Linked DNA regions of Homo sapiens: region 2 is linked to region 1. A link means that fine-mapping ties the variant in region 1 to the expression of a gene that starts in the linked region. Tissue or cell type: prefrontal cortex. Region 1 holds a variant in brackets; the other region holds the start of a gene. All regions are shown on one strand. Distances are from middle to middle.

Region 1 (2,765 bases):
ACTGGGCTGGAAACTTATGAACGATAGAGCTGGAAATTCTGAAGTCTTTCAGAACTGCAGAGAAAGAAACCAATTAGGCTCTTAATTAAAAGCTTGAGATGGTCATTTTCAAGAAGATGACTGAAACAGATGTATACTGGGACTTATACAATCTATAGTCCAGCTCTAACCTATATCAATTCCTGACTCTGCAAAATGGTCAGCTGCTTAACTGAGTGACATAACAGAAGAAAGGGGAAACACTGTCTGGTGAAACATCACATTATTTGGAATCTCTTTATTTCTTTTATGCTTAATGTCTGACATACAATAAAATATTACTATACATGCCAAAAGACAGGAAAATTTTTATTAGTAATGAAGAAGAAAAAGATAGAAATAGTAGCAGACTAATAAATGATCCAGATATCAGAGTTACCAGTCAAAGCCTTTGTAATAACAATAATTAATATATTAAATAAATTAGAAAAAAGATAAAAAGAATAGGTGAAAGTATGGAGATTTTCTCCAGAGAATTATATTCTGTTAAATAAAAAGAAATAGATAATATACAATTGAAAAATACAATCTCCGCAATTAAGAACTCAATAGATGGATTTAACAGTAGATTAGAAACAGAAGTATACAGGACAAGTGAATTAAAATATAAGTCAATAAAAACACATAAAATTAAGATTAGGAAAAAATTAAAAGAAAAAATGAATAGAGATGTATAGGATGATCCAAAGGTCTAACATACATATAATAGGTATCACAGAAGTAAAAAGAGAAAATGGGTGGAATCACTATTTATATTTTCCAAACTGATGAAAGATAACAACTGAGAGATTCAAAAAGCTTTGAGAACCACAATTTGAAGATAAACAAAGCAAACTACACCACAGTATATCAAAGAATCTTCTGAAAACCAAATATAAAGAGAAAAGCTTACAGTTGTTGACTTAAAAAGAGAAACACTAAGACTGAAATCTAACTTCTTAACCAAAATGATGGAAACTAGAAAACAATAAAATGACATCTTAAAAATGTTAAAATAACTGCCAACCTATAATTTCACACACAATATTTTTATATCCTTCAAAAAATGAAGATAAAGATAGTTTTAGTCAAATAAAAAATAAAGAATTTGTCACTAGTAGGCCCACCTTTGTAAAATTAAATGAACTACTCTCAAGCTGAAAAATGATTCCAGACAACCTACAAAATGGGAGAAAATTTTTGCAATCTATCCATCGGACAAAAGGCTAATATCCAGAATCTACAAGGAACTTAAATAAATTTACAAGAAAAAAAA[AC/C]CATCAAAAAGTGAGTGAAGGATATGAACAGACACTTCTCAAAAGAAGACATGTATGTGGTCAACAAAAATGTGAAAAAATGCTCATCGTCACTGGTAGTTAGAAAAATGCAAATCAAAACCACAATGAGATACCATCTCACACCAGTTAGAATGGCAATCATTAAAAAGTCAGGAAACAACAGATGCTGGAGAGGATGTCAAGAAATAGTAATGCTTTTACACTGTTGGTGGGAGTTTAAATTAGTTCAACCATTGTGGAAGACAGTGTGGCTATTCCTCAAGGATCTAGAACCAGAAATACCATTTGACCCAGCAATCCCATTACTGTGTATATACCCAAAGGATTATAAATCATTCTACTATAAAGACACACACCTGTATATTTATTGCTGCACTATTCACAATAGCAAAGACTTGGAACCAACCCAAATGCCCATCAATGATAGACTGGATAAAGAAAATGTGGCACATATACACCATGGACTACTATGAAGCCATAAAAAAGGATGAGTTCATGTCCTTTGTAGGGACATGGGTGAAGCTGGCAACTATCATTCTCAGCAAACTAACACAGGAACAGAAAACCAAATATTGCATGCTCTCACTCATAAGTGCGAGTTGATCAATGAGAACACATGGACAAAGGGAGGGGAACATCACACACCGGGGCCTATTTGGGGGTGGGGTACTAGAGGAGGGATAGCATTAGGAGAAATACCTAATGTAGATGACGGGTTAATGGGTGCAGCAAACCACCATGGCATGTGTATACCTATATAAGAAACCTGCACGTTCTGCACATGTACCCCAGAAATTAAAATATAATAAAAATAAATAAATAAAAAGAAAAAGAAAAAAAAGAAAAATGATTCCAGATGCAACATGAAAATATAGGAGAAAATTTCAAACTTCAGGAGAGTAATTATGTGGATAAATACAAATGACTAGTGGCTGTATGTATGAAACAAGAATTGTAATGTCATATATATTTGCGTATAGTATATATTATATATGAAAAAACCAGAATTACAGTGGAAACATATTATTATATTGCTGCAGGTAATGTAGTACTTAGAGAGAAACTGCAGCACTACAATTCTGATTTGGCATGTTTCTATTTTATTTTAGTTCAAAATGTTTTCTAATTTCTAGCTTAATGCTGTTGTGGTCAGAGAATATGCTGCATATATTAGACAAGAAGAAAGACTGAAAATCAATTATTTAAACTTACAACTCAAGAAGCTACATAGTAAAAAGCACATCAAAACTAAAGAAAACCTAAGAAAATAAATAAAAAAACAGAAATAAACAATGAAAAGGAGAAAAATTAACAACATTGAGGCTTGAGACTTAAAGTTGATAAAGTTTTAATAGGATTGATCAAGAAAAAATAAAGAATCCATAAGTTTTCAGAATTGAAAGTACACAGATCACAATACATTCAGTCAGATAATATTATGAACACTTT
Region 2 (2,632 bases), 580 kb after region 1:
TTTTATGCCCAATGCCCACAATGGCTTAGAGCATAATAGGGTTTCTTAGGCATTTAATAAATGTTAATTGAATAAATTTGGTTAAAGAGATTATTGTATAAGAAATATGCAGGGGAGTTGAAACATACGACCTCCAAAGTCCTTTCCAACTTAGACTTTCATTGAAGGATATCAGTCCCTTCCATGTTTTTGAATATCACATCTATGTATGACTATGTATACATATGTATATGTATACATGTATGGCTATGTATGACTCCCAGAGCCATAATTTCAAAGCTCTCAATCTGAGCTTTCGACTAAAATATCCATCTGCCTGTTACATAGCTTCACTTATTATCTAAGTTGGCATCTCAAATTCAATACGTCCAAAATTAACTTACTTTCCCACACAACTTGTTCCACCTTAGCAGTTTTTTGTATTTGCTAATGACACCATTGTCCTTTCAGGGACTGCTGTTAAAAACATCCTACATGGCCACTCTCTTCTAAAATAAATCACTGCGTAGACCTCTGCATTCCTCTTTCCTAAAATTCTTTTTGTCGTTCCATAGGCTTACAGTCTCCATCAAACTGCTTGTGACTCTAATTAGCACTTACTTCATTCTGACTTGCATGCTATATTTCCATCTCTGTTCCACATTTCAAGATTTCTGTAGATAGACAGCAGGTGCTCAACAACTCCTTGTAGAATGGCTGCATGAAGGTTGGGATGTTAGGTTTAAATTGCCTTTGCGGCACGGATCTTGTTTTACACTTTTTTGTCCCCCACCCCCCGCCATAAAAAGAGCAGAGAAAACAGGGAACACATATATTAAAAACTGAACACTGCATCTATTATTCTAACTCGGAGCTGTTGCAACAACTGGCGGCAGTTTTAACAAAACAAGCCACGCTCTGCCATTAAAAAAAAAAAAAAAGTCCCTTAGACTCAGCTCCCAGCTAAAACAACCCAGGATCCAGGTTTCCCACCCCCTTCCAGTGGTCTGATGTGCGTCGGAGGAGCGAGGAGAAAGGAGCAAGGAGCAAGCTGGGCCTGAGGAGCAGGGAGCGCGGGATGGGGGACGTCCCGGAAGTCACTGACGAGCTGGCTGCCGCCTCTGCGGGATCAGTTTGGGCTGAGGGCCCAACAATAACAGGCGCCCGGGCCGGGCGGGGGCCGCGGGGATCCGAAGCTGGAGGGCGGGACCTGGATTGGAGGAGGCGGGTGGGACGCCTCCAAAGGCCGAAGGGGATTGGAAGAGGGAGGTAAGGGGCGGTGGAGCTCGAGGAATGGGCCGGAGAACTAGCGGGTCGAGCGAGGAGCGAGCATGCTGATTGGGTTTCGCGGAAGGAGACGGACCAGAGCTGGCCGAGGATTGGCCGCGGTGCCTAGGGGGCGTGGCCGGCGCGCGCGAGAGGGAGCGCGAGGGAGCTGGCTGCGGGCCTGCCTGCCAGCTAGCCGGAGCCGCGGGTGAGCGCGGCGAGCGGCGACCCTGGTGAGGAGCGCGGCGCGGGAGGCACGTTCCTTAGCTCCGCCGCGGCCGTCCTCCGCGGCTCGAGGACTCCGCTTCCTTCCCTCCCCTCCCCTGCGCTCCGGCCTGGGGTCTCGGCGCGGGGAGCGGAGGGAAGGGACGAAGGAGGAGTAGGTGAAAGCGGGGTGAGGGGCGGAAGGGTCCCGGCGCGGGGTGAGGCGAGGGCTGCCTCTTGTTCTCCCGCCGCTGCCGCCGTCTCCTGGTCGGGTGCCGCGGCCAGAGGCGCGCGGGGCTGCCGAGGCACCCGCACTATGCAGGCAGACTGCCGGCCGCCGCGATGGCGAGCCGGGCGGTGGTGAGAGCCAGGCGCTGCCCGCAGTGTCCCCAAGTCCGGGCCGCGGCCGCCGCCCCCGCCTGGGCCGCGCTCCCCCTCTCCCGCTCCCTCCCTCCCTGCTCCAACTCCTCCTCCTTCTCCATGCCTCTGTTCCTCCTGCTCTTACTTGTCCTGCTCCTGCTGCTCGAGGACGCTGGAGCCCAGCAAGGTGAGTGGTCCCAGGGGAGTGAGCGGCGGGGGAACCTCCGTCGGGGCTGCGGGTCTCTTGGCCCCTGAACAAATCTGCAGACGCTGCAGGGAGGCGCGGTGCGCTTTCGTGCGTGGCCGGACCTGGCTGGGTACTCACGGGGTTGAGTTGCAAAGGCAAGGTCTTGCCCGTCTGTCCCCCAAGTTGGCGCGGCTTTACTTTTTGGCAAGGCCATTTATTTTTCTGAAAGGGGGACGTGAGACCCTGCTATGAAAGCCTCGTTGATATTAGGTCCTTCTGGGGAAAATTTTGGGGAGGAAAAAGAACCTTTGGAGGTAATGACCCCTAAAGTTAAGCTGCACGGATGGATGGACACTGTAGGAAGGCAGGTTAATTAAATAGCATCTTAAGCCTATTAAAGGTAAGTGGTGGTAATTATGATCCTTTGTGAAAGAGCCCGGGTTCTGAAGCGAATGGAATAGTTTCTGCTTATCTCTGAGTCTTGGATTCAGAACATGTTCTTTACAATCCATCATTGAGGCTGGTGGTCTAGACTGCCTTGGTCAAACACTGGGTCTGACCCAACGCTATGCTAATTTGCCCAAGTGAAGCTCTCCACATTAAAAAGGTAAGCCTTTCCAGAAAGTGACAAAACTT

What was found. PIP is the estimated chance that this variant, and not a neighbour inherited with it, causes the effect.
Region 2: DCBLD2 starts here. The variant in region 1 is fine-mapped to the expression of DCBLD2 in prefrontal cortex (CommonMind, PIP 0.95).

Annotation. Positions count from the first base shown.
Region 1 is chr3:99,475,823-99,478,587 of GRCh38, reverse strand. The region is part of intron 1 of LOC105374007 (a long non-coding RNA gene); the gene reads left to right. Among named protein-coding and RNA genes, the nearest start is that of COL8A1, 160 kb to the left of the region's middle. The variant AC/C (reference allele first, on the strand shown) is at 1,295.
Region 2 is chr3:98,900,486-98,903,117 of GRCh38, reverse strand. DCBLD2 (discoidin, CUB and LCCL domain containing 2) reads left to right here and starts at 1,423. Exons shown (of 16, transcript NM_080927.4): 1 at 1,423-1,996. The coding sequence starts at 1,792. It overlaps LOC105374002 (a long non-coding RNA gene), which reads right to left and starts at 1,104. Exons shown (of 2, transcript NR_189121.1): 1 at 601-1,104. RefSeq lists silencers at 1,105-1,154, 1,295-1,984 and enhancers at 1,092-1,807, 1,808-2,524.